Regions from separate parts of the Homo sapiens genome. Here regions 1, 3, 4, 5, 6 and 7 are each linked to region 2. Evidence: fine-mapped expression QTL. A gene starts in region 2. Each other region holds a variant in brackets. All regions are shown on one strand. Distances are from middle to middle.

Region 1 (4,066 bases), 140 kb before region 2:
ACTTGAACTTTTGATTCAGTATCACTGCAATGGGTGGGTGATATGGCTTTGTTGTGTCCCCAACTAAATCTCATCTTGAATTGTAGCTCCCATAATTCCCATGTGTTGTGGGAGGGACCTAGTGGGAGAGAATTAAATCATGGTGGCGGTTTCCCCCATACTGTTCTCATGGTAGTGAGTAAGTCTCACGAGATTTGATGGTTTTTATAAGGGGAAATCCCTTTTGCTTGGTTTTCATTCTCTCGTCTGCTGCCATGTAAGACGTGCCTTTTGCCTTTCACCATAACTGTGAGGCCTCCCCCACCACGTGGAACTGTGAGACCATCAAACCTCTTTTTCTTTATAAATTACCCAGTCCTGGGTGTGTCTTTATCAGCAGTGTGAAAATGGACAAATACAGTAAATTAGTACCAGTAGAGTGGACCACTGCTGTAAAGATACCCAAAAAGATATTCAAGCTCTAACAGCCTGGGACTCCTTGGGTAAAACAGGAGGCACCACAGAGCCTGTTTTGGGAAAAACCTCTGTTTTTCTCATGAAACCCCAGGAATTGGAAGCAGTTAGAGCCCTCTCAAAATCTAAGGCTCTGTTCTTTTCTGCATTGCATTATCTGATATTTTTGAGTTTTGGGGGTACCAGAAGTTACTTCACATTATGAGAGAAATTTAGTGTGTAATAGCTAGGTAGGAAATACAGTTTTGGGGATAGCTAATGGCAATTATGGGGGAATTCTCAGCTCTTTGCATGTTCGGATCAGAGAAGCATGCTCTTGGCCACCTAGAAAGCATGGAAATGAGCCGGGCGTGGTTCCTCATACCTGTAATCCCAGCACTTTGAGGGGGTCAAGGCAGGTGGATCACAAGGTCAGGAGTTTGAGACCAGCCTGGCCAATGTGGTGAAACTTCATCTCTACTAGAAATACAAAAATTAGCTGGGCGTGGTGGCACATGCCTGTAGTGCCAGCTACTCAGGAGGCTGAGGCAGAAGAATCGCTTGAACCCAGAAGGTGGAGGTTGCAGTGAGCTGAGATCATGCCACTGCACTCCAGCCTGGGTGATGGTGTGAGACTCCTTCTCAAAAAAAAAAAAAAAAAAAGTATGGAAATGTCACCCACACCCCCTGACTGAGAGACAAGACTCCCATGGATGATGGGCTAGTCACAGAATGGGCTGGTTAGCTTTGGATTGCTTTGCAATTAAATGCATGGTAAAATCATTGCACTGTCTTGTTCATAGCATTTCTCCTTTTGGGATCTGAGATCTGGTCTAAAAATGAAACCCTTAATATTGGGGGAATCCATTTTACCTTCCAGGTGTGCCTGCTTATTAGGTCCTAGAAACTGCTTTCCTCACCCTGTTCTACAAAGGGCTCCACTCTAAAGCCAGTAATCCAATTAAGAAATATAAAAACTGGCAAATGAAAAATCCTACAGCTACTGGATCTTCTTCCATCTGTCTGTCTGTGTAGTTATATATGTGTTGTGCGTGTGATGTTTATATAAAAGAGCTCTGATTAATTGGCTTCAAGAAAAATAAGTACTTAAATATTTTGAAAGAAAAATAAAAACTGTAATGCCTTTTAGTTCACATGACTTTAGTAACCTTTGGGAAATAAAAACAATTTTGAAGATTATTGGTAAAATAAAGATATTTAGTCTAATTTAGGCAGGTCAGATATTAGGTTTGCTAAATGCTTTAAGGTTATAAACTGCTTCTTTGGCTTTTGAAAATCGTTCAACTTGAGTAAAGGAATAGGCTGGGCATGGTAGCTCATGCCTATAATCTCAGCAATGTGGGAGGCCGAGGCAGGTGTATCACAAGGTCAGGAGATCGAGACCAGTCTGGCCACATGGTGAAACCCAGTCTCTACCAAAAATACAAAAATTAGCCAGGCGTGGTGGCGGGCACCTGTAATTCCAGCTACCTGGGAGGCGAGACAGGAGAATTGCTTGAACCTGGGAGGCGGAGGTTGCAGAGAGCCGAGATCATGCCACTGCATCCCAGCCTGGGTGACAGAGCAAGACTCTGTCTCAGAAAAAAAAAAAGAGTAAGGAATAAAGAGTGGCTATTCTGGCCGGGAGCGGTGGCTCATGCCTGTAATCCTAGCACTTTGGGAGGCCAAGGTGGGCAGGTCACCTGAGGTCAGGAGTTTGAGACCAGCCTGACCAACATGGAGAAACTCCATCTCTAATAAAAATACAAAAATTAGCCAGGCGTGGTAGCGCATGCCTGTAATCCCAGCTACTCAGGAGGCTGAGGCAGGAGAATCACTTGAACCTGGGAAGTGGAGGTTGCAGTGAGCCAAGATTGCACCACTACACTCCAGCCTGGGCAACAGAGTGAGACTCTG[CAT/C]AAAAAAAAAAAAAAAAAAAAAAAAAAGAATGACTATTCCATATGCAGAGCACCCCCAAGGGCTGCTGGCTGTCCACTTTAATGATCATTTCCTAATTATATGCTAAAGAAGGGGTGGGTTATTCATGAGTTTTCCAGGAAAGGGGTGGGCACTTTCTGGAACTGAGAGTTCTTCCCCCTTTTAGACCATATGGGGTAACTTTCTATGTTGCTATGACATTTATAAAGTGTCATGGCACTGATGGGAGTGTCTTTTAGCATGCTAATACATTATAATTAGTGTATAATGAACAGTGAGGACAACCAGAGGTCACTCTCATTGCCATCTTGGTTTTGGTGGGTTTTGGCTGACTTCTTTACCACTACTTTTTATCAGCAAGGCCTTTGTGACATGTACCCTGTGTCAACCTCCTGTCTCTTCTTGTAACTAGGAATGCTTTAACCTCATGGGAATGCAGCTCAGAAGGTTTCAGCCTTATTTTATCTAGCCCCCATTCAAGATGGAGTCACTCTAGTTCAAATGCCTCTGCCACAGTGATAAAAGAAAAACTTCAGCTGAATTAAGTTTAAAGATGTTTGATTGATCAATGAGCAAGTCACGAATTGAGCAGCTTTTTGAGCCAGGGTAGGCATAGAGACTCCAGTGCAGCTTTGTGGTAGAAGAAGATTTATGGACAGGAAAAGGAAAGTGAAGTACAGAAAACACAAATGAGGTTTAGAAGCAACTGGATTGCTTACATTTCAGCGTTTGCCTTATTTTAACACAGTTGGAACAATTGGCTACATTTGATTGGCCCAAACTCAGTGATTGGCACAGATATGGGCTACAGTCTGTTTACATCTCCACTTGTTGTAGTTCATGATGTACAGAAAATCTTTAGGCTGAACTTAAAATATATAAGGAGGCAGCTTTAGGCTAAACTTGATTTAACAATTCCCCCCTTTTGATCATTTTCTCAATTTTGAGAGATTGACCAAAACTTTAGTCATTCATGTCACCATCCCAGCATAAATATACTTATTTGGTCTTGAAACCCACTGGGAAACAGTAGAACAGTGAGTTTTGCAAGGTGGGAACAAGGACTGAGTAGAGGGTACCTCCTTATGCTGGAACCTCCTGTTTACAGAAGAAAAACAAAACCTGGTTTGTTCTAGGACCTATGTGTTCCTTAAAGTCTTAGTATTGCTATGTCACATTTAGCACGAGTGACTCCATTTTGGTTTGGTTTGGGGCCTAGTGCTCATTCCAAAACAATGGCCTCCCCTAATTTTGTTTTTAAATATTCCCCCTTTTTGGTCACATTCTCCCTTAGGTGAGAGTTCTTACTTAGGTGAGACGGTGACCAAAACTTAGGGCCTTAACGCCACTCTCAGTTACCATCATTTTGGGTTTCTGGTCTCAGCGTGTCATTCATAGGTTATGGTGTCCTCATGGTTGCACATTTCTTTTTTTGAAACAGAGTCTACTCTGTCACCCAGGCTGGAGTGCAGTGGTATGATCTTGGCTCACTGTAACCTCCACCTCCTGGGTTTAAGCGATTCTCATGCCTCAGCCTCCTGAGTAGCTGGGTTTACAGGCAGGCACCGCCACACCCAGCTAATTTTTGTATTTTTAGTAGAGACAGGGTTTCACCATGTTGGCCAGGACGATCTCGAACTCCTGGCCTCAAGTGATCCACCTGCCTTGGCCTCCCAAAGTGCTGGGATTACAGGAG
Region 2 (4,066 bases):
TGCTTGAATACCTGTGATGACAAAGAGCTCACTACCTGTCCAGGGGCCTCCTGCCCTCTTTTGGCTGTTAAGAAAATCCCTGGGTGCAGGGCAGGTCATGAAGGGGACAAGAAAGACCAGGAGGCTGAGAAGTGATTCCTAGAAACTGCTCCCTCAAACAGGGCAGGCATCAGGGAGGTGGAGAAGAGGCCCCATGGGGCAGGAAAGGCCTGCAGAGGGGCTCCGGCTCTCCTCACTCCGGACCTCTCAGACGGTCCCCAGGAGGGGCAGGAAGCTGGGGAGACACATTCCAGTCCTGATGCACAGGTGGGTTCTGAACAAGCCCCAGGAAAGCGGAGGCCCCACAGCCTGCTCCAGGGCAGACACCTCGGCTCCCTCTTCTTGCCTTGGCTCCCTGGGATCTGATGGGAGAAACTGCTGGGCCTGGGGCTGCTGGGTCTGGAGATGAGCATATTTAAGGGACCTGACCACTGCCCCAGGGTGAGGGAGGAAGGGTCAGAGGTTGTTTGTGTGTCCAGAGCAGGACCAGCAGGAGAGGCAGTGACTGGGTAGCAGATTCCAGCTTGGTTTACAACTAGTGAGATTCCTATCACAAGGAGTGTGCAAGGGGGCAGCAAGACCTTCCAGAGGGGATCTTACAGAGGGGCTGGGCCAGATGCCATAGGTCTTCTTTACCTAGGGAGCCTGGGACCACAGTCCCTCAGACCTGTGCTCTGCCCCATCCCTTAATGCCACGCGGACACAGCACCTTGGCACTGTCACCCCTCTGAGGTCCAGGCGTGGCCGCCAGTCACCCCTTGTCACACCAGCTAGTGTGTGTCACACCTTATCACACACTAGCTCTGGGACACAGAGCTAGGCACCAGCACCTGGCCCGGGTGGGGAAGGGGAAGGAGCTATCCTATACCACTCTCTAAATCGAGGTGCCTACGTGGGGCTGGTCCAGGCAGTCGTGCCGCCAGGAGTCCAGCCACCTCCAACCTAGGGCTCCTCCAGCCCCAGACGAGTAAACCCTCTTGGCGGGCCGGCTGATGCCCCACATGCACGCCCAGGCCGGCTTGGCGGGGACCCGGGGATGCCCCCCACCCCACCGTTTCCTGTACCAGGAAGCTGAGGCCCAGCAGGTAACGCAGCCAAGAGGGGGAGGGTCCCGACAAGAGTCCCATGGAGCACCCGGGCCACAGCAGGGGCCTGTCGGGACCGGCTGGCCGCGCCCAGAGTGAGCTTCCCTCACCGCGGGCAGGAGGGGTGGGCGGTGCAGACAGTGCTCATGAGGGCAGCGAGCCGTCGGGAGCCCGGACCTCGAGGCGGCCCCTCCCAACAACCCCGCGAGAAGGGGGCCACCAATGAGCAAGCTATCCTGACGGGGAAACTGAGGCCTGGAGAGGAGCAGTGCTTTGTGCAAGGTCACGCAAAGGGGCTGAAAGCCAGGTCCCCCGCGCTCCGAGCCCCGCATCCCTCCCTCTCCGGGAGCTGCAGCCGCAGCGCGCACGTCCCGCCCGACGCCCCCATCGCGCAGACCGGGAAGGCACGGCCGGCGGCGCAGGGCCGCCCTACCTTGATGACTGCCGCGCAGGTGGCGGTGGCGGCGGCGGCGTCCAGCTCCGGCTCCGCGCTCCTCGCCGCCCGCCGACTCCCGGCGCCCAGAGCCGCCGCCGCCTCCCCCTGCAGCCCGGCGGGCGGGGCCGGAGGGCGGGGCGGGGGCCTGGCCCAAGGTCCGCCCTTTTGCCCGCCCCGCGGGTCCGCCCTGGCCACCCTTTTCCGCCCCCACGACCCCGACCGCGCTCCTGGCTCCCCGGGGCGGGTCTCGGGGCGCGCACACGTGCTGGGAACAGGCGCGCACACGCCGCAGTGATTGGGGCGGGCTGCCGGCCACCAGGCGGAGGCTGGGGACAGGCAGAGCCGCGGGCCCCACGTCGCGCCGTGCCCTCGCTGCGTGGTGTGGGATGAGGAACCTGACCTCCCGGAGCCTCAGTTTCCCCCGTTGTGAAATGGAGACAGTAACCGCGTCGGCCTCTTAAGGCTGTTTGAGCCCTGGATGTGACGATCCCGGCCGGGTACAGTGCGCGCGCCGAGCCCGGCCAGGGAAGCGCTCCTTTCCCCGAGCAGTTACAGCGGTTACCGAGGCTTCCCCGTCCGCAGGGAGGAGAGGAGCCGGGAGCGCCGCTGGGAACCGAGGAGGACGCCCTTCCTTCTCTCGGGACCAGCCGGGGGCGCTGCTGCCAGCCTCGCTGGCTGGAGAGCCCTGAGGACACTAGACAATGGGGAGGCCCTACCTTTGGGTACCACCCCCACCTAACACTACTGAGCCACGCACTCCTCTAAGCGCCTTCTGTGCATTACCTCGCTTCACTGTCACACAGGCCTATGAGGTTGATACCATTACTCACCTATTTAACACAAAAGAGCTGAGGCACAGAGATATTAAGTACCTAGGTTAAGATCACCCGGCTAGTCATGCAACCCCAGGCAGTATGGCTCCCACGGCTACTAAGCTAACAGCCACTCCACTCCACACCACGTCTGTGAAGAGCTCTTGGTTTTGTTCAGTAGAGACGGGTTATCTTGAGGGCCTTGAACTGCTCCGTGGCACATAGTAACCACTCAATATATAGTTGTGGAGTGGATAACAGAGTACACTGTTACTACTTTACATATCTGTATCGTTTCTTCTAAGCTTCTAATAATAGTGGCTTTATTTAGCCACTATTATTACCTCCATTTTACAGATAAGAAAACTGAGGCTTGGAGTGGCAAGGTACTTAGGGAGCTCTTGATTCTCTCCTTAGAATGTGACTCAGCTTCCATAGTCCACTGTACCACCCCCCTGCCCAGAGCTGGACGGGCTCCCTGCCTACCACCCAAAGCCCAGTGTGCACTATGGTCCTGAAAACCCCATCCTACAGCTCTGATTCAGACCTTCTGGAGCTGGATTGCCCAGCAGGTAGACTGAACGCATGCTTCTGGTGTTAGCGTGCAAGAGTTGGGTATCAAGCATATGGATGGCTGGGCGCAGTGGCTCATGCTTGTAATCCCAGCACTTTGGGAGGCCAAGGCAGGTGGATTGCTTGAGCTCAAGAGTTCAAGACCAGCCTGGCCAACATGGTGAAAACCTGTCTCTACTAAAAATACAAAAATTAGCCGGGCGTGGTGGCATGTGCCTATAGTTCCAGCTACTTGGGAAGCTGAGGCAGGATAATCACTTGAACCTAGGAGGTGGAGGTGGCAGTGAGCCGAGATCACATCACTGCACTCCAGCCTGGGCTACAGAGTGGGACTCTGTCTCAAACAAACAAACAAACAAACAAACATATGGATGAAATCAGAACATTGTGGGAATTCTTTATAATCATGGTTTGGTTTTTACTTGAATTACAGCTGGACGGTGGGCACCATGATCTTTCCCAGGCTAAGGCATCTGAATAACTTTGTTGTTGTTGTTTTTGCATGGTTTTGTTCTGTCGCCCAGGCTGGAGTGCAGTGGCACAATCCTAGCTTGCTGCAGCCTCCACCACACAAGCTCAAGCAATCCTCCCACCTCAGCCTCCCGAATGGCTAGAACTACAGGTGCGTGCCACCATGCCCAGCCAATTTTTATATTTTTTGTAGAGATAGGGTTTCGCCACGTTGCTCAGGCTGGTCTCCAACTCCTGGGCTCAAGCAATCTGCCTGCCTTGGCCTCCCAAAGTGCTGGGATTACAGGTGCGTGCCACCACGCCTGGCCTTGAATGTCTTAATTCACTTAGGGCTTGGGCCAGCATCTCTGGTGTGGCTTTCTACCTCTGCCAATGCCACTCGCCTTGCACTCTGACATCTCTGAGCCTTTGCTCTGTCTGCAGTTCTCTTCCCAAATCATCATCTCCCTTGTCTAAACCCACTCATCCTTCCAGGCCTAGCCTTCCTAGATGTCCTATGGATGTGCCCTCCAAGGCTTGCACCTGCATCTTCCTACCCTGTGCCATGGTGGTTGGTGGCTGGGACTGTTTGGGGAACAGCTGGTTTGACAGAGACATCTCTGGGGGCTGTGGGCATATGGACCCATAAGCCAGAGGGAGACCTCTGCAAT
Region 3 (4,066 bases), 92 kb after region 2:
TCAGCCTCCAGAGTTGCTGGGACTACAGGTGCGTGCCACCATGCCCAGCTAATTTTTGCATTTTTGTAGAGATGGGGTTTCACCATGTTGGCCAGGCTGGTCTCATACTTCTGACCTCAAGTGATCCACCCGCCTTGGCCTCCCAAAGTGCTGGGATTACAGGTGTGAGCCACCGCGCTTGGCCAGAGAACATATTTTTCCCTCTGCATCTTGTGGCTGCTGCTTCTTTTATCCTTACTCTGGTCTCTACCTAAACATAGAATTTGCTGTTTTTCTTTATTTCCACTAAAACTCACAAAGCTTTTACTTGTATAGTAAATGTAACCAAAGGTTTAGGGACATTTTGCAGGAGGGAGTGAAATAAAGGGAAGACAGAGGCTTTTACTTCATGCAACACAAATGACTTAAAATCAAATATTCAACATCCCTATTCTTTTTTTTTTGAAAAGGAATTTTGCTCTTGTTGCCCAGGCTGGAGTGCAATGGTGCAATCTCGACTCACTGCAACCTCCACCTCCCAGGTTCAAGTGATTCTCATACCTCAGCCTCCTGAGTAGCTGGGGTTACAGGCGTGTGCCACCATGCCTGGCTAATTTTTTGTATTTTTAGTAGATACGGGGTTTCATCATGTTCGCCAGGCTAGTTGCGAACTCCTGACCTCAGGTGATTCACCCGCCTCAGCCTCCCAAAGTGCTGGGGTTACAGGCATGAGCCACCGCACCTGGCTGACATCCCTATTCTTAAAAGCTTTTTAGCCACACTGTCCTGTTATTTATCACCCACTCCTTTCATTTTTCTCTCCTTCTAACCCCAAACTTCTAGTTCTTTTTCTAACAGAATTGTTCTGCTGTCTCTCTTTTAGCCTTGTCTTTAGAATCTCACCTTGCCCCTAACACAGCATGTCAGGATGTTTTCCCTAATGACATTCTTCCTAGATGCAGTCTGTTGTGAGGAGACTAGGCTGTTGGCTGCCCCATTGTACCTACTAAAGCTGCTCATTTTACATTCCTCCTGTCTGGGAGTAGCACAAATATAAGCTTAGTGTTCACAAGGCACTTTCCCCTACATGAGCCTCTTTGACTGTCAGAGAAGCTCTGAGCGAGGTATCATGTCCATTTTACAGATGAGGGATCAGAAGCTCAGAGAGGTGGAATCATTCAAAGCCATGCAGCCAGGTAAGTGAAGGTGTACAAATGTGCACCCAGGCCTGATGATTTTTCAGATGTAACTCACATCATCACACATAGACAGGATGCGTGCTGTCTGATCACGCAGCAGTCTGAAGTCACATGGATTCCATGACAGGTGATTAACACACAACAACTTAGTTGTCCTTGGTGCAGCCACAGCAGCCCCTGCAGGTGCATGCATTCTACAGAATTGGGCTGCTAGTTCTCTCCCTCTCCCCTCCTCTTCTTTCTCTCTTTTGCTGGCTAGCTTTTACTCATTTTCAGGTCTAGGTATAGGACTGGCTACATAATTTGTGGGCTCCAGTATGAAATTAAAGTGCTAAGCCCTGGGCCGCGTACAGTGGTTC[G/C]TGCCTGTAATGCCAGCACTTTGGGATGCTGAGGTGGGAGGACTGCTTGAGCCCAGGTGATCGGGACCAGCCTGGGCAACATAAATTTTTTTAAATATTTTATTTTTTAGAGAGATCTCATCTCTCTAAACAATAAAAAATTAGCCAGGCATGGTGTTGCATGCCTGTAGTACCAGCTACTCGTAGGCTGAGTGGGGAGGATTGCTCGAGCCCAGGAGGTCAAGGCTGCAGTGAGCTGTGATCATGCCACTGTACTCCAGCCTGGACAACAGAGTGAGACATTGTCTCAAAAATAAACAAGTCAATAAAAAATAAAAATAAAATAAAATTCTAAGCCCCCTTTTCAAAAGTTATTTAGAATTTCAAAATAGTTACAGCAGAGCATTAAGTCGAACATGAGGCCCTTTAAAAACTGTATAGGTTGCAAACCCCCAAAACTAGCCCTGTTTGGAGGCTATGGCCCCCAGGAGGCATGTCCATTCTGGAGCAGGTGCTTATCACAGGCTATTGTCATTTCTTCATTAAGCATCTGTCTTCCTATTAGTGTGTGAGCTTCTTGAGACCTATATCCTACTCACTGTTCACCTGGCACCTAGCACAGGCCTTGGCAAAGATCAGGGGCTCGGTGGATGCCCCATTGAGGGTCTGGGGCTCCTGAAGGTGGGACCTGGAGGAACCAGACAGTGAATTGTCATCTCTGGGCAGGACCCACTCAGGACCACGGACAGGGCAGACCAAGTATGATGGAGTTAGCCCCTGGGATTTGCCAGGGGTTTCAGATGTGGGGTGGAGGCAGAGGAGGGACCAATTTTCTCTTCCAGAGAGTGTGTTAATCATTTACTGTCCAGTACCTACAAACCCTGCTCCTCAAGGCTAAGTAAGGGGTGACAAGCTAAGGGGGTAGGGGACAGGCAGGTGACAAGTGCTGGGCACGCAGCTTGGTGCCAGCCCTCCGGCCCTCAGCCTGGCTCCTTGACCCTTCTTTAGCCTCCTGAGGCTTCTTAGCCCCATCTTCCCTTTGGGTATCCTTACCCACCTCCCTGTTCAGCAGCGTGTGTGAGGCCAGGGAAATATCTCCTGCATGTCTCCTTAATACCAGGAGGGTTTCAGACAACAGTGAACCCCTCGTGGAGCCCCTCTGCATCCCACAGATTTCTTTTGGTTCTAAGTGACAGAAACCCAACTCTATGTAAGCAGAAAAGGGTATGTATTAGTTTAAAACCTACAAGCTCAAGGATGGATGTATTTTTAGGTATCACTGGTCCTTGAGCCTAAATGATGCAATGAGAGCTCAGTTTCCCTCTTTTCATTGCTCTCCACGTGGAGGGCAAGATTTCAAACTTCTTAAAAACGGCAGGGGAAAGCTTTGACTGGCTGGGCTTGGTTAATGAGCATATCCCTGAGCCAATCCTGTGTCCAGCAGTGGAAGCAAGGGCGGCCCTCCAGATTTTCTCTCTTCTGCTTTCCCCCAAAAGTAGGGCAGTGCTTTCAGAGGAGCTGCAGGAAGGCAGATGTGGTTGCTGGACAGGCAGAGGTGCTGATGGCCGCCAGTCTGCTTTTTGCAATCTACCCAGTACCACCTCCTCTCCCTGGCACTGGCTTCTAGGCCTGTGGATCCTGATCCTTGTAGAGAAGAAATTGCTGAGCACAGGAAACTGCCTGGAAGGGCAGGCCTCGGCTGGTGCCCCAGGCTTAATGTTTTCAGAAACCTCTCCCCTTCTTCCCTCAGAGTGGACCCCAGTGTTGTCTCCACACCCCAGGGTGAGGAGACCCCCAGGCAGAGCTTTCTAAGAGGGCTTCAACTCCAGAAAGCCTGTCTTTGAGGTTGGGAAACACTCTTTTATTTTTAACTCAGAAATGACCCAGTCATAACAAAAGGAAGACAGAATGCTTTTGAAGAAGAATGAAGAGGAATGAAGTGCACCATTGCTGTCTGGGCTTTTCCTGCTTATGGCCAAGCAAGGCATCACTTCAGTGATGTGACAAGGAGCATCTTCAACACTTGGGTCATTTCTCTCTTTCAGACGTGCTAAGAGGAAAGACCAAATGTTGTCTTGGCTGACTCCATATTTAGTGAGGCTATGTAAAGATTTCTCAGTCTGTGGTAGCTGAGAAATTGCTCTATGGGGCAGCGTCTCACCGCTGTGGTCGTACTACCTATGGCAGAACAGGTGTGGGAAGTGGACTGAGAAGAGCCAAGTCTCAAAACCAGGACATCTGGGTTCCATGCTGGCCCTCTCGTGACCTTCTGGTTGACCTTGGCTCCAGTTGCTGGGCCTCCGTTTCCCCAACTGTACTAGGAGGGGCTGGGTGAGATGACCGCTGCCACCTTTCTCTGCTCTAATTTCTGTGAGTCAGGGTCAGGTAGAGAAGGAAGACCAGCTAAGATTCTGGTTGTTCCTGCCTTTGCCACAGCCTTATTAGGTGGCCTTGGGTACGTATTCTTCATGTTGGGCCTGTTTCCCATCCTTGAACAACCCACATCCCGTAGGATGGCTGTATGAGCAGTGGTGTGGAGCAGCAGGCACA
Region 4 (4,066 bases), 24 kb before region 2:
ATTCCACTTATATGAGTTACTTTGAGTAGGCAAAATCACAGGGACAGAAAGTAGAATGGTGGCTGCCAGGGGCTGAGGGTAGGGAGGAATGAAAAGTTATTGTTTAATGGATATAGAGTTTCAGTTTTGCAAGATAAAGAGTTCTAGAGATGGATGGTGGTGATGGCTGCACGGCAGTATGAGCGTACTTAATACCACTGAACTGTACACTTAAGAATGATTTAGATGGCAAATACTATGTTATGTGTATTTTAGTACAATGAAATATACATATATTTTTTAAAAGATCCGGTTTCTTTAAGATGACAAGGAAAAAGGGACAAGGGTCATTACAGTTCAGAAGAGACTTAAGAGATCAGAGGCACAGCAAGAAGTGCAATGTGTGGATCCTGTGTGGATCCGGATTCACACAAACCAATTGCAAAAAGGCATCAGGAAGCAATCAGGGAAAGCTGAGTGGGCACCTGACAGTATTAAAGAATTGTTGTCATTAGGTGTGGTAATAATACTGTGCTTATATTAGACAAGAGTCTTTATCTTTTAGAGACGGATGCCTAATATTCACAGATGAAATGATATAACATCTGGGATTTATCTTAAAATAACTTGCGGTTGTTGGACAGAGGAGGAGGGAATGAGTGCGTAGAGATGAAACAGGCTGCTGATGGCTACTGAAAGTGGGTGAGGGTACAAGAGGATTCATTTGAATCTTTCCTTTAATTTTGTATGTGTCTTTAAATTTCCATTGTAAAAGATTTAAGCAAGAAAGAAGCAGGAGAGCACAGAGGTGGCCCAGGCCCCGGAGCTTGACTGTCAGGGGTCTAATCTTGGCTCTAAACGGCCCTGTCCAACACAGAACCTCTAGTCCCACAAGGCTTCTAAATTAAAGTTAAAATTAAATAAAGTGTAAAATCCAGCTCCTTAGTCACACTAGCAACATTTCAAGAGCTCAAAAGCCACATGTGCTTCATAATCACAGATGAAACCATACAAGCAACACCCAATGAACAGTGTAATTAAACAACATGCCCATCTCTGAACAAAGTTCTGATGGACAGCACCACCCTATCATTTCCTATCTGCCACTCTGGGCAAGTTACTTAATGTGTCTATTTCCTCACCAGGAAAATCAGGCACTACAAATACACATACTAGCTAACGCCTATATTACTGACTAGGTGTTAAGTATGTTCCACATACCAACTCAACCCTCATGCAAGTACTGTCATAGCCCCATTTTTAAGATAAGGAAACAGGGCACAGAGAGGTTATATAACTTGCCTAAGATCACATAGCTAGTTAGTGGCTGGGCTGGAATCTGAAGCCAGGCTGTTCAGTCACAGGTCCACACTCTCTCGCAGGGGTTCCTGGACACTTACATAAGGTGATACACACAGCATGCAGAGTGATGCTTGGTGCATACTTAGTGTTCAAAAGACGTTGGCTAGTAAGATTGTTGTGGTCCCAATGTGTACAAGACACTGAGATGTGATTTAACACACAACAGGTATATGCTGGGAGGCCAGCATTTTGGGTATCTAAGTAAAAATCCCAAACCAGAAAGCATGAAGCAGCCTCCCAGGGGCCAAGTGGCTCGTGAGAGTT[C/T]CAACCCCTGGTGCAAACCATGATGATGGGGAAACAGACACACACATGCAGAAGGCTAGCTGACAATTCCTACTGATCAAAAAGAATCCAAGAGAGTGCATTTGTGCATCTCTCCGGGCTGGGTTCTCCTAGGTGGAGGCCAGAAGGCCCCACCCTGCCCTAGTGCTGAGGGACCTGGGACGGGGTGGAGGGGTGGGGGAAGAAGCCCTTTGCTTTTTCTCCATCAGCACAGCCCAGGCAGGGAAGCAGAGCGCAGCCATCCAGGGACCCTCCTTTGGGGCTTGACCATCACCAGCGAGGCAGAAGCCGTCTGCAGCCGGCAAATGCAAACAGCAAATGCAAAGAGTCCCGTCCTCAGGTTTCCGCCTTCCCCGCCCCCGCGCCGCCCATCCTTCTGGTCCAGCACAGATGCATCTCTGCAGGCCCACAGGAAGTACAGATTGAGTCAGAGAGCAAACCAAGACAAGGCCTCTTTCTTCCTGATGAGATTAGGCCTGAGGGAGTGCCTCCTCCCCACATCTGACACTGCCCAGAGCCACCGTCCCTGGGCGGGCCACCTCCTCCTGCCCTGCCTCCTCCCCAGCCCTGCCCCCACGGCCCCCACCTGCTCTCTACCCCTCTCCCAGGCCATGCCAAGGCCTCAGCAGCCTTCTCTCTTGGGGACTCAGGCCTCGCATATTCCACCCCCAACTCTGGCCCTGCACTTTCCCTTAAAATGCACCCCGGGTCCCCTCTGTCCTCAGGATAAAGTCCTCTGCTGGACTTGGGTTTTGAGGTCCCTACGTTCCCCCTGAGTCTTTGACCTCCTTCTCATCTCCACAGACCTGTTCTCTGAGACAAACTGGTCTGTCTGCTCTCCCCTCAAAGCATCGTGCTTTTCAAAAGAGAAGGGGAGAAGCAAAAAGAAAATAAAAAAGCATCATTTTCCCAGATAATCTGTCTTTGCTCATGCCCCTTCCCTCTGCCTAGAACTAAGCCAGCTCAGGTAAGTCGCTGGGTGGCTCTTAGCAGGGCTCTTAGAATGCCCCTTCCTGTCACCCCACCTTCCTGGCCCAGCTCCAACAGAACCACCTCCAAGGAGCCTCCCCAGCTCTCAGACTGAGCAGTCTCTCCATCCCATGAGGTCCCATCCTGACATTTGGGGAGGTAGCCAAAGGCAGGGAAAAAGAAGGCACCAAGTTCAAGCCCTGGACCCCTATTTGTCTCTGTGCCGTAGCATTAGAGTATCCTCATATTTTTCTCATAGAATCTAGAAGATTAAATGAAATAATGTATGTAAAAGACCTTGCATGTGTCTGGCACAAAGTAGGAGCTCAGCCCATGGAAGCGCCCCTCGTCTCCTTTCCTGCCCACTGTGTTTTTTCCTTCTCTTCCTTCCTCCCCCACCAACACACCCATAGGACTGTCAACCTTAGATGGTTCTCCCCTTCTGCTGTGCCCACCTACAGCCCTGTGGGTACCCAGGGGGAGGCCAACCTGACTCCCAGCTTGAGCTTTCACTCACACCAGCAGCTTCTTCTGAACCCCTCCTTGAGGTGGTAGGAGCCAAGGGGCTGGGCCCATCACTGTCATAGCAGTTGTGCTGGTCAGGCTGGAGAATCCTAATTCTTTTATTGTTGTTGTTTTTTTGAAACAGAGTCTCGCTCTGTCACCCAGGCTGGAGTGCAATGGCGTGATCTTGGCTCACTGCAACCTCTGCCTCTGGGGTTCAAGTGATTCTCCTGCCTCAGCCTCCCAAGTAGCTGGGATTACAGGTGTGCACCACCACGCCTGGCTAATTTTTGTATTTTTAGTAGAGCAAAGGGGCTTCACCATGTTAGCCAAGCTGATCTTGAACTCCTGACCTCAGGTATCTGCCCACCTTGGCCTCCCAAAGTGCTGAGATTACAGGTGTGAGCCACTGAGCCTGGCCGAGAATCCTAATTCTGACACCAATTCGCTCCGTCACCTTGGGCAAATCTCGTCCCCTCTCCCGCTTTCTGAGTTTCTATCCATATAATAGTAACAGCCCTGCCCTGCCCACCTGTTAGGACGGTCTGTGGAGGGTGCTGCAGCTTGCACACACCAGACACACACAGGACCACAAGGGCGACAGAGCTGTCCAGCCATCAGCTGTCCTGAGAAGGTCTTGTCCTGCCTGGACCTTCTGGAGACAGAGCAGAGCTTCTTTCTGTTTAATCCCCCAAATCAAGCCCTGACCAAAACTCCACACAGGTTTATTGCCCCACAATCTCCTTATCTGGGAGTTTCGAGCGACAAGGATCACTGGGGATTTTCCAAGACACCTCCAGGAGGCTGAAAATCTGGCAGCTCCACTCCCTGCTCACTGTCCGCTTTCTGGCACAGAGCTTTCAGACCTGTCTTTGGACAGAGAGGGACACTGAGGCTCAGAGAGGAAGCGCGCCTTGCTTAGCGTCCCACAGTCAGCCCGAGGCAGGGCTGAAGCTCTGTAACTCTGGTC
Region 5 (4,066 bases), 85 kb before region 2:
GAAAATCACCAGCAAAACAAATAAAACAACAGTTTTGCATTAAGCAGGGTTGGAGTCCAAATTCACGGAAACTCAAAACTGAAAAATAATATGAAAATGAGTCTGGAGCTACTGAAACTCTTAGCATCTCCTGAAGATGCTCATGTCACAGTGCTCTGAAGGGGCACACTCACAATCCACAGTGTATTGGACATCTATGGTAAATAGCTACTGGAGACAAGATGATAATACACGTGACAAACCACACAAGAAAATGAACCACCATGCCTCACCTCCAGATTGGGGATATATTAGAATTGTATGTACAATATAACTCAAGCTACATTAAAAGCATATGCATATACAGGAAAAAAATCTCAAAATGTGAATAATGGTTGGCCTGAAGTGGCAGGATGCAGGATTATGGATGAATTTTTAAAAATATGTTTCTTGATCAGGAATTGAATATAAATGCTCACAGGAGCCAGGTTGTTAACACTGAAGGAAGTGGGCAGGGTGGAGCTGGGAGATCCCATGCCATGGGAGTAGCCATTGCTCAGCTCCATCTGCCCCCACATGAGAGTGCAGGCATAGGGTGGCAATATCTTTCTAATTTCCTAACTATAAATTTTTATACAAATATGTCTCAGGTTTAAAATGCTGACTATTAATTCCATTTTTCTTATTACCTTATGAAGGCCACTTAGGTGTTAGTCTAACAAAACATACAGAATTTGTATGCTGAAAATTACAAAATGCTGATGAAAGAAAACAGAGATCTAAATAAATGGAAAGATATACCATATTCATGGATTGGAAGAATACATAGTAAAAATGTCAATTCTCCCCAAATTGATAAACAGGTTTAACACAATTCCTATCAAAATCCCAACAAACTCTTTTTCTTTTCTTTCTTCTTTTTTTTTTTTTTTTTTGAGACATGGTCTCGCTCTGTCACCCAGGCTGGAGTGTAGTGGGTATGGTCATTGCTCACTGCAATTTCAACCTTCTGAGCTCAAGCGATCCTCCCACCTCAGCCTCCTGAGTAGCTGGGACTACAGGCATGTGCCACCATACCTGGATGATTTTTTAGTTTTTTGTAGAGATGGTAAACAAGCACATGAATAGATACTCAACATCACTAGCTACTGGGGGAATGCAAATTAAAACCATGATAAGGTATCACTACACACAGATTATGCAAGTTAAGATAAAAACTTGTGACAATACCAAATGTTGTCAAAGATGCAGAAAAACACACTCTCATGCATTGCTGGTGGGAATGTAAAATGGCACAACCACTCTGGAAAAGCGTTTGGCAGTTTCTTAAAAAACAAAACAGGCAGGTGCCATATGACCCAGCAATAGCATTCCTGGGCATCTAACACAGATAAATGAAAACTTATGTCCGCACAGAAACCTGGACACAACTGTTCAAAGAAGCCTTATTTGCAATAGCCCTAGACTGTACCAAACAGCCTACAATAGGTAAATGGTTTAAAAAACCTCTATGGTACATGCATACTATCGGATTAGTGGAATATTACTACTCAGCAATACATGGGAATGAACTAGTGGTTCTTGCAACAACTTGGGTGGATCCCAAGGGCATTCTGCTGAGTGAAAAATACCTCAAAAGATCATTTTCCATTTTTATGACATTTTCAAATGCAACAATTATCAAACAAATTAATAATTGCCAGGGGTTAGGGATTGGTCGGGGGGATACAGTGGGTAGGGAGGTGACCATAAAGGTGTAGGTAGATTTTTTTTTTTAAGATGGAGTCTCGCTCTGTCATCCAGGCTGGAGTACAGAGGCATGATCTTGGCTCACTGCAACCTCCACCTCCTGGGTTCAAGCGATCCTCCCACCTCAGCCTTCTGAGTAGCTTGGATTATAGGCGCCACCATTCCCGGCATTTTTTTGTATTTTTTTTTTAGTAGAGATGGGGTTTCAACATGATGGCCAGGCTGGTCTCGAACTCCTGACCTCAAATGATCTGCCTGCCTCAGCCTACCAAAGTGCTGGGATTACAGGCATGAGCCACCTCGCTTGGCCTAGAAGAAGGTAGAACTTGGCAGTGATGGAATAGCCTGCATTTTGATTGCAGTGGTGGTTATGCAAATCTATACATGTGATAAGTTGACATAAAACTATACACACATACCATC[C/CT]TTTTTTTTTTTTTTTTTGGATAGTGTGCTATAGTTATGTAACAAGTAACCCTTGGGGCAAACTAGGTCAAGGTACACAAAACTCTACTATTTTTGCAACTTCCTCTAAATCTATAAAAAGTTAAAAAGTTAGTTGGGGAAAGGGTCAAGAGAAAGAGAACCATGGCTTAGATTAAGCTGAAACCTACCCCAGGCCATCCCTCAGGCCAAGCTTATCCAACCTGCAGCCTGTGGGCCGCATGTGGCCCAGCACAGCTTTGAATGTGGCACAACACAAATTTGTAAACTTTCTTAAAACATCATGAGTTTTTTGGATATTTTTTTTTTCTTTAGCTCATCAGCTATTGTTAGTGTTAGTGTATTTTATGTGTGGCCCAAGACAATTCTTCCAGTGTGGCCTGGGGAAGACTAGACCCTCCACATGGGTCCTAATTCTTGGGGGCCCTCAAACCATATCTGCTCAGGCATTTGCAGACAGGGAGCCTGATCTTCAGGCCTCCCCACAACCCTTCCAACGTGACAGCTTTCACTTTCTAAATCCTTTGGTACTGTCTATCTCCTAGCCCAGAGTTCTGCTTGTGAAGACATGAGAGACACTATTAAGCTGGGACCACAGGTGTGAACTACAAACGTCTTCAGGGTACTGGCAAACTGTCATGAAGACAACTGACAGAGAATGGACTTTAGGCAAATGTGGGAGCCAATTCTGTGGCCTGGCCTGGTCACAGGAGAAACTGGGTGCCAGCTTCTCCCATGGTCACAGCCACTCCTCCTCTTGTGTGAATCAGTCAGGGGTTCCTTTTTTTTTTTTTTTTTTGATAGGGTTTTGCTCTGTTGCCCAGGCTGGAGCACAGTGACGTGATCCTAGGTCACTGCAGTCTCAAGCTTCAGGGCTCAAGCGATCTTCCCACCCCAGCCTCTGAAACAGCTGGGACTGCAGGCGTGCACCACCATACCTGGCTATTTTATTTTATTTATTTTTAGTAGAGATGGGAGTCTCACTATCTTGCCTAGGCTGGTCTCGAACTCCTGGGCTCAAGTGATCCTCCAGCCTTGGCCTCCCAAAGTGCAGAGCAGGGGTTCTTCCAGCTCTCAGTGGGGCAGGCCCCAGGAGGGCCTCCCACCCCAGCCCTCACTGCGAGGAGGGAGCAACAGAGGATGAAGGGGAGGAGGGAGCAACAGAGGATGAAAGGGGGAGGGAGCAACAGGATGAAAGGGGGAGGGAGCAACGGAGGATGCAAGGGGAAATGACCAGCCCCTGAGGCCCTAAAAACACAACAACTTTGTCATGTCAAAATGGTTACTTAGAATAACATCAGCCTCAAGTTCCCATTCAAAATCCACAGAGAATCCACTCAAACATCATTATGAAAGGAGAGTGAAGAAAGTACCTATTTGTGGAACAGATCTTACCCTACTTGCTTTCTTTCAGCATGGCAGTGGAATTAAAGAGATATCTGCATATTCCTTAAGCTGTGTTTTGCTTTGTTTAAGGCAATTTGGGATAATGGGCTAATTCCTCCAAGAGACTGGCAGATGACACTAAGGAACCAGAGATTTGCCACAAAGCAAAGGAAACCGGAGCTCAGGGCCCCTCACTTGCAGAGCCCCTTCATGGTCTTGCACCTAATTTTGTCTGTAATTTTGTGTTCTTTTTCTAAAGAACCCTGAATTATAGAAGCTCCAGGCCCCACCATCTGCCCCTTCGCAGTTGGTTTTTATTTTCATTGGCTCCATATTGGGGGTCCCTTTTGTCTGGGGGGAAATGTGGGTCTTTCCATGGGTATGAGGAAGAAATGTCCACTTGCCTTGAGCTTCTCGGTGGCATCTTCTATCTGGGTTATGTTGTCAATGTGCTGCTGCTTCTTGATTGCCAGCTGCTTTAAACATTCTTGGCTGAGTTTCTGTACAGGAG
Region 6 (4,066 bases), 30 kb before region 2:
TCCCCTTGGAAAGAAACAACAAGGACAAATGACCTCCCTAGGGTCTTGGCAACTTGGTGGCAGTGGAGGAGCCACCTTGGGCCTGGGCTCGGGTGGGAAAGCAAGGAGCAAATCAGCAGGCTCCGCTCCAGGCCCCCCCACTCCTCCCTCACCTTGAGCAACTGCTGGGGGTGGCGGGAGTGCACCTGTCTGTGGCAGCTGGTGATGCTCACCAGACGTCCCATTGCTCCCCTCATGTCCAGGCCCCTTCCAGTCAGGCAGCCATAGCACACATCACTGCCTCCTATGACCCGTTAGCCAGTGGATCATGGGAGGCAGTGATGTGTGTCACTTCCAGGCCAAAGCACATGAGACCTGCCTGTGACCCTCTAGGACTCTCGTCCTTGGCCAAAGGGATGAGAAGGGTGCATGTTTCAGATGGTGCATCTATAAGGTAGTTGGTCCCTCAGGAACCATGTGTAGCAGAGCACTTTCTTCTACTGACATACAGTGCAACAGAGAAATACACTTGTAGAGTGAACCATGAGATAAGGGGTTATTTGTCATGGAGGACAGCGACCCATCCTGATTCATACAGCCTATGCAAGTCCGGCCCATGGAGATGGCAAGTGGCTGCCTGTGCTTGGTGTGGCCACAGAGGAGGAGGCAGGACCCAGATCATCTCAGATACCCGGACTCTGAGGGCAGTGGGGAGCTACTGGAGAAATTAAAGGAGGGGAGAAGCTGGGCACGGTGGCTCACACCTGTAATCCCAGCACTTTGGGAGGCTGAGGTGGGGGGATCACTTGAGGTCAGGAGTTCGAGACCAGCCTGGCCAACATGGTGAAACCCCGTCTCTACTGAAAATACAAAAATTAGCCGGGTGTGGTGGCGCGCGCCTGTAGTCCCAGCCACTCTGGAGGCTGAGGCAGGAGAATCACTTGAACCGGGAATGCGGAGGTTGCAGCGAGCCAAGATCGCACCACTGCACTCCATCCTAGGGAACAGAGTGATAATCTGTCTCAAAAATAATTAATAATAATTCTAATAAATAAAGCAGGGGAGATAGAGGACCAGATTTAATTTTCAGGTTTTCCTCTGATTCCTGAGCAGAGGAAAGGATAGAGCAGGTAAGAGGCAATGGTCACCCGGGCTGGAGTAGGGCAGTGAAGTGGACGGGATGGTGGGGAGAGGATGTTACTGAAATACCAAGGAGGTGGGATCAACCAAATGTGGTGCCTGAGTGCATGTGGCGGGCCTGGGGTAGTCGCTGAAATCGACATGAGCTTACATTAACAACAGCCCTGGCCCCTTCCGGACCCTCTGAGCTGTCTCCCTCCACAGCCTGTCTGTGCACCTGTAGGGGGTACCTGGGGTCTGGCCCAACTCCTGAGAGCCACTCTCCATCCAGGAGGAGTGAGGAGGCCGTGAGAGGCCTGGGCAACACCTCCCCTGGAGCTCACAGTCACCTCTGTGGCAATAAGAAGTCATGGTTTTTGAGTGCTTACAAGCTGCCAGGCGCCATTCCAAATGCTTTCCATGCATGAATAGAGCAAGTGGGTGCTACCTTGCTCCCCCGTTCAGATGTAGGTGTTCAGGCCAGTAACCGGGTCACACAGCTAGTGAACAGCAGGCCTGGGGGCTGCACTCAGCTGTCTCAAGCCTGCAGCTTTTGAGCCTGCAGCTCCAGGTCCTCACAGACAATACCCATGATGACAATAGCTCTTTCAGACCCATCACAGCCCTGGATCTCACCTCTGTCCCTAAGAGGAACTGTCATGATCATGATCACTTCCACTCTACAGAGAAGGAAAATGAGGCCCAGGAAGCTAGCTAGAACCCTCTGGAAAGGCTCCCCACTTCCCCACGGATGAAGCCAGCTGACAGCAAAAGAGCGTGAACATCAGTGCCCTTCTGTCCGTCCCCCAATCCTCTCCCCACCCTAACTCTTATTTGCACTGCTAAGATTCTTCCAGACCTGCTGTCATGAAGGGAAACTTCACAAGTAGGGGGTGGGGCAGCCGCTAGCAAGGCCAGCTACCTCTCCCTTTGTATGTGGCATGGAAGTGTATGTGTATATGCATGGGTGAAGCTTGTGCATGCGTGCTGGCCTGTGTGCGTACTGTGTGTGCACAAGAACTGCATTCATCAGGAAGTTCATGAGCGCCTGTGTCGTTTTGTGGGTGTGCATGCACGTGTGCATCCCTTTGGATGTTTAACTGAGGCTGTGTATATACACATGCATGAGCGCATGCGTGTATCCGTGCATGCATGACTTTAATGACTCAGTAATTCAGAGAACAGGAGTTCATTTTCCCTACAAGCAGGCACTTGCCCACAAGTGAGTACTGTAGCGGGCCCTTCGCCTACAGGCTGGGCCAGAACAGCCGATTCGAGCCAGGTCTATCCCAGGCCACTCATCTTATCCTGCCCCATTCCATCTGGCTGGGCCCACATCAAAGCCACA[A/G]CAGGCATTCTCAGGTGTGGCACTCTGGGACAGCCTGCTGGGCACAAGGCGGGAGGTGGCATCCATTCTGCTGCTGTGATCCCATGCAGGCTTGGTGGGCCTGATGCCATGGGATTAGGCTCCGGGGCCTGTGAATTCCCAACTCCCAGAAAGGATGTAGTCATCTCTGGGTTTTGCATCGCACTGAGTTTATTTCTTTTTTTTTCTTTGAGACGGAGTCTCGCTCTGTTGCCCAGGCTGGAGTGTGCAGTGGTGCTATCTCAGCTCACTGCAACCTCTGCCTCCTGGGTTCAAGCGATTCTCCTGCCTCAGCCTCCAGAGTAGCTGGGATAACAGGCGCATGCCACTGTGCCCCACTAATTTTTGTATTTTTAGTAGAGACAGGGTTTTGCCAAGTTGCCCAGGCTGGTCACAAACTCCTGACCTCAGGTGATCCGCCTACCTTGGCCTCCCTAAGTGCTGAGATTACAGGCGTAAGCCATTGTGCCCGGCCTTGAGTTTATTTCTTAACACCTGACAGTGGCTCACAACTCTCCTGCAAGGTAGGTGGGGATTATTTTCCCCCATTTGATGATGGGAAAACTGGGGTGCAAGGGAAGTGACTAGACTGAAGTCATGTTATGATGAGCAGTGCAGGTGGGAAGTAGTCTGAGGACTAGTTGAGAGACCCCTCTTCCTGCTATGCAATATGCTCCTTTCTTGACATACATGCGGGGTGTGTGTGTGTGTGTGTATGTGTGTGTGTGAGAGAGAGAGAGAGAGAGAGAGAGAGAGAGAGAAAGAGACAGAGAGAGTTTCCTGCCTGTTCCAAAGGCCCCTCTTCTTTACCCAGCCCTAAACTCATTGCAGGACAAGGGTTAGCTGCAGGGTGGCTGAAACTGAACCCAAACTGGGCGTGGTGCAAACCATTATAATAGATTATTCATTAATTGTACTGTTTGTGGCTTTAAGGAAAGAATGAAATGACCTGATTTGGTCTTTGAACAGGATGGGTAGGCATTGCTGGCTACCAGTGCCCCTTCGTAAATTTGTGGTTTCACATATAATATTTGAAGTTTTATCTGTTCTCTCTCTTAAAATTTGACTTGTGGGCACAGTGAGCTGCCACCTGTAAGTGCCTGGTGAGAGGGTCTGAACCACCACACTTATGTCACAGCCACAGTTAGGGAAGATTAGAACCACAAGTTACCCAGTTATTTCAAAAACCGAAAAGAGGTTACTGTTAATCAGGATAAAGAACGCTCTATGTGAAGGTGCTCTACAAAGGCTGAGAATTCACACAATACACGTCTCATCATGGGTGGGTCCCTCACCTGGACTCCAATCCCTGACCCACTATTATCCATCACAGTTTATCTTGATCCTGGCCTTGGCCCTAAACTTGCTGGGAAAGCTCTTTTCAGTCATCCAGAATCCTTATGGGGTCTCTGATCCACCCATTGCGAGTGGGATATCTGGCTCTGAAATCAAAGCCCATGGAGGATAAGGCCACCCTGCTGCCAACCTAGGCCTCTGGGTAACCATTTCCCACAGCATCTTCCTTTCTCACCAGGCAGGAAGAAAAAAATACAAGGCTCAGCTACTTCTCCTCTGTAAGGGTTTTATCACAACTGGGCTCTG
Region 7 (4,066 bases), 120 kb after region 2:
CTCTTACATGCCCTTCTGGCATGGCCTCTCAAAGGACACAGGATCAATCACTAACACTTCAGTGATGCAGCAGCAGGTAAGAATGCATTTGAGCAGCACAAGAGATTCCAGTTTATTTGACTTTTGGAGAGAGGGCTTCATTTTTGGCCTCTAAGTGGGGTCAAACGGGGGTGAATGGTGACTTAACCTCCCTGTGGAAAGATCTGAGGAGGGCGCAGTGACCAGCTTTGTGTCACTAGATGGCTTTCAGTGGAAGCATGGTTTATATAGGATATAGGAGAGAAGATTCAAGGATCAACCTGGGCTGAAATATGGTGGAGCTGACCTTTCAAGTTCTTCCTAATGTTGGAATTTCACAACGTGGGCTTGGTATGTGATCTTTGATTTTTTTTTTTGAGACGGAGTTTCGCTCTTGTTGCCCAGGCTGGAGTGCAATGGCCTGATCTCGGCCCACCGCAACCTCTGCCTCCCGGGTTCAAGCGATTCTCCTGCCTCAGCCTCCAAAGTAATTGGGATTACAGGCGCCCACAACCACACCCAGCTAATTTTGTATTTTTAGTAGAGATGGGGTTTTGCCACGTTGGTCAGGCTGGTCTCGAACTCCTGACCTCAGGTGACCCACCCACCTCGGCCTCTCAAAGTGCTGGCATTGCAAGCATGAGCCACAGCACCTAGCATGATCTTTGATTTCAAAAGATGAGTAAAGTGGAAAGAGTGCTGGGTTTGCAGTTTGGAGGTTACTAGGCAGCTTTTGGCAAATCATTTAACCTCTCTGAGGCTTACCCTCCTCATCTATTAAATGGGGATGATCCTGCCCACCTCCCATGGACTTAAGAGAGGGTCCGCTGAAATGCTGGACATGAACATGCACTGGATGTCGGCAGACTGCTCTTCCTGGGAGTAGTGCAGTGACAGCTGTAAGGCACAGCCACGAGTTTTTGGGTTACTCTCTGGTTAAGATCTTGACTCTGCCACTTACTAGCCAGATGACCTTGGGCAAGACACCAAGCCTCAGTGTCATCAGTGAAATGAGGATGTTATTTGTACCTATCTCATAGGGTTGCTGCAGGAACTGAGATAGCATGTGGCAGGCACTGAGTCCACAGAGAGTAACTGCTTAGTCATGGAGGCTCTGTTTATTTTTACATTGATGGAGGCCCCTGGGAGACAGAGGCCCAACAAAGAAGTGTCCCCCCTCAACACTGTCTCCTGCTCTGCACCTACCATGAGAAGTCCCTTGTAGGCATAGACGATGCCAAGCCAGATGGTCATATGGGTGTTCTCACAGTGCTCCAGGAGAGGGCGGATGGAGATATCCCGTCCTGCTGGGTCCGGCTGTGCAAAGAGAAAACAGAGACTCAGGGATGGCACAGGACACTCTTCCAGCAACTGGGTCCTTATCTGAGAGCCCTTTTCCCTCCTGTGAGCCATAGCCAATGCCACTGTTCAGCAGGCCATTTGGACCCCATCTCTGTGTTCCTAAGGTGTGGAGCCCAGGCCTCAACTAGCGTTGACTGCCTTCTGTTTGTTGGTAGCAATTCAACCCTGCACTCCAGTTCTCTGCATAATTCATGCCTCTCCAATTTGAGTCAGAGCTCCTGAGGGTAGGAACTGGGTCACTTCTTTGCCCCTAGGATCTAACACAAAACCTGGCCCAATGCAGGTACCGCTAATATTTGTTGTGAGAATGAGGTATAAAGTTAGGTCAGGAGGTCTTCAGGTATCTCTGGGGTTACCTCTGTGCAACTGGAGATATAGGATATACTGGCCTGCCCAAGCCTGGGGCCTGCCAAACCCTTCTGAGGAGACCCTCTTGCCCACAGCCCCACTGCTGGAGCAGTGATGGCAGCCAGGTTGTGTACCACATGACTCATCCTTGGCCAGAGCTGACTGGACAAAGAATGGGCACCTGACCCCAGGCAGCCAATCCAGAGGCTTGTCAGATACCTATGAGGTTTCCTCCTACAAAGTGCTCTGCCTAATGAGGGTTGATGGAGAGGATCCCTCCTGAGCACATTCTCTCTGGCAGGAACTTGAATTGGGAAACTCTGGGAGAT[A/C]ATTGGCCAGATGGTGGCAACAAGACAAAAAGACACCCAGGGAATGAAACAACATCTACTGTACATTTATTTTTTTCTGAACCATTTGAGAGTAAATTGCAGATATCCTGACCCTTCACCCCTGAATATCCTAGCATATATTTCCTAAGAACAAGGGATTCCCTTGCACAATCACATACACTTACTAAATTCAGAAAATTTAACACTGATACAGTGTATTATCTAATATACTAGCCATTTTCAGATTTTGCCAATTGGCTTAATAACGTCCTTTAAAGCAACTGTGGATTTTCCAATGCAGGATCCAATCCAGCATCATTATTGCACTTACGTGTCTTTGGTTTCCTTTAATCTCAAACAATTCTTCAGCCTACTTTGGTCTTTCATGTCATTGTTTCTGAAAAATCTAGTTCAGTTATTTTGTAGAAGCCCCTCAATTTGGATTAGCCTGAATGTTTTATATTCAGATTTTATGTATTCTTGTCAGGAATCCTACATAAGTAAGAGTCACATCAGGGGGACGCGTTGGCACTCTGTGATCACTTGGTTGACATGATTTCTGTCAGACATCCATTTCAAAGGTATCATTTCCCCATTTGTAATTAATAAATAATCTGTGGGAGCTACTTTGAGACTGTGTAAGTATCCTGTTCCCCCACAAATGTTCACGCAGTGGTTTCAGCAACCATTGATAATTCTTACCTGAGTCATTTATTACTTTGGTAGCTGCAAAATGGTGATTTTCTAACTCTACCATTCTATTTAAACACTTGGCATTCTACTGCAAAGAAGAGCTTTCCTTTCCTCCCATTTATTTATGTATATCAGTATGTTCCTTTTTTTTGAGATAGAGTCTCTGTCACCCAGGCTGGAGTGCAATGTCGTGATCTCCGCTCACTGCAACTTCTGCCTCCTGAGTTCAAGCAATTCTCATGTCTCAGCCTCTTGAGTAGCTGGGATTATAGGCGGCCGCCACCATGCCTGGCTAATTTTTGTATTTTTATTAGAGATGGGGTTTCACCATGCTGGCCAGGCCGGTCTTGAGCTGCCGACCTTAGGTGATCTGCCCGTCTCCGCCTCCCAAAGGGCTGGGATTACAGGCATGGGCCACCATGTCTGGCCTAGTATGTTCCTTTTTAATTCAATGTCTTATAATCCTTTGCTATCTTATTCATGTTGATGCTTAAATTTTTCCAGATTGGGCCAGTGGAAAACAACTTCATGCTGCCTTCTATGTTTTTTCCACACATCACCATAATTTTTTTGAGCACTTTCTTACTTCTTGGCACAACGATTCCAGCACTCCTTGAACTCTTCTTGCTCCCAGCCTTGCAATCAACCATTTCTCCAAGGAGTCCTTGTTCTTTTTAGTGGAGAATGGTGTTTAGAAACCAAGATGTAGGCACTTGATGGTCTCACTGTTCCTAAGTTGTCACTACTTCTAAGCTCTTTTAAAAATAAATCTGTCTGTCTGTCTGTCTAGATAAGATCCAACACTGCCGAGTTCTTGCTTGCCTTCCCCATTCCATATTTTCATCACTCTTCTCCAACAGTGGAATCCCTGCCTTCGAACAACATCAAAATATTTACTGATTTGTTCAGTCCTACATTAGACACTAAATAGTTGCAAAATTGATACATCCATACAACTGTCAAGCACAAACTTACTAAGTAAAGTTGAAGATTCCTTTGCAATCTGTTTGCCACTGGGAGTATATCACCAAATAACTGTGTTCAGGATGTTATATTCTGATGGAGTTGTGCTGTTGAGGCCCAGGGTAAAGCCACACTCCTGAGGGTAAGGCATGGGCATCCCCAGGGTCAATCACTAGGAAGAAGGTACTTTGATGGGACCCAGGGGTAGAAGGCAGGTCTTAGACGGGTAGCGTTTAGAAACTAGTTTTTTGGTCTTGCTCTCCAGGTGTGACCTTTGAAGCAGGCAATGGACCTGGGCTTCTGTGAGGTGGGGGAAAGATGGTGCTCCCACGTGAAAGCAGGAGGAGCTAGGA

The links. PIP is the estimated chance that this variant, and not a neighbour inherited with it, causes the effect.
Region 1: its variant is the best candidate, but not a certain one, in a credible set for the expression of CORO2A in whole blood (INTERVAL, PIP 0.61).
Region 3: its variant is the best candidate, but not a certain one, in a credible set for the expression of CORO2A in visceral fat (GTEx, PIP 0.61).
Region 4: its variant is the best candidate, but not a certain one, in a credible set for the expression of CORO2A in unexposed skin (GTEx, PIP 0.61).
Region 5: its variant is the best candidate, but not a certain one, in a credible set for the expression of CORO2A in monocytes (Kim-Hellmuth 2017, PIP 0.73).
Region 6: its variant is the best candidate, but not a certain one, in a credible set for the expression of CORO2A in pancreatic islets (PISA, PIP 0.67).
Region 7: its variant is the best candidate, but not a certain one, in a credible set for the expression of CORO2A in skeletal muscle (GTEx, PIP 0.76).

What each region holds. Positions count from the first base shown.
Region 1 is chr9:98,046,989-98,051,054 of GRCh38, forward strand. LOC124902227 (a long non-coding RNA gene) reads left to right here. Exons shown (of 2, transcript XR_007061687.1): 2 at 1-1,215. It also overlaps a transcript of TRIM14 not described here. Among named protein-coding and RNA genes, the nearest start is that of NANS, 7.7 kb to the right of the region's middle. The variant CAT/C (reference allele first, on the strand shown) is at 2,350.
Region 2 is chr9:98,191,002-98,195,067 of GRCh38, forward strand. CORO2A (coronin 2A) reads right to left here and starts at 1,636. Exons shown (of 12, transcript NM_052820.4): 1 at 1,558-1,636. RefSeq lists an enhancer at 489-1,143 and silencers at 1,296-1,345, 1,416-1,965.
Region 3 is chr9:98,282,679-98,286,744 of GRCh38, forward strand. No RefSeq gene overlaps it. Among named protein-coding and RNA genes, the nearest start is that of TBC1D2, 29 kb to the left of the region's middle. The variant G/C (reference allele first, on the strand shown) is at 1,538.
Region 4 is chr9:98,167,226-98,171,291 of GRCh38, forward strand. All of the region lies in intron 1 of CORO2A (coronin 2A), which reads right to left. Among named protein-coding and RNA genes, the nearest start is that of CORO2A, 23 kb to the right of the region's middle. RefSeq lists enhancers at 1,718-1,907, 3,856-4,066 and a silencer at 2,188-2,337. The variant C/T (reference allele first, on the strand shown) is at 1,606.
Region 5 is chr9:98,105,930-98,109,995 of GRCh38, forward strand. It overlaps TRIM14 (tripartite motif containing 14), which reads right to left. Exons shown (of 6, transcript NM_014788.4): 2 at 3,960-4,055. Among named protein-coding and RNA genes, the nearest start is that of TRIM14, 11 kb to the right of the region's middle. The variant C/CT (reference allele first, on the strand shown) is at 2,152.
Region 6 is chr9:98,160,551-98,164,616 of GRCh38, forward strand. All of the region lies in intron 1 of CORO2A (coronin 2A), which reads right to left. Among named protein-coding and RNA genes, the nearest start is that of CORO2A, 30 kb to the right of the region's middle. RefSeq lists an enhancer at 1,928-2,428. The variant A/G (reference allele first, on the strand shown) is at 2,447.
Region 7 is chr9:98,309,871-98,313,936 of GRCh38, forward strand. GABBR2 (gamma-aminobutyric acid type B receptor subunit 2) reads right to left here. Exons shown (of 19, transcript NM_005458.8): 14 at 1,225-1,335. Among named protein-coding and RNA genes, the nearest start is that of TBC1D2, 56 kb to the left of the region's middle. The variant A/C (reference allele first, on the strand shown) is at 2,058.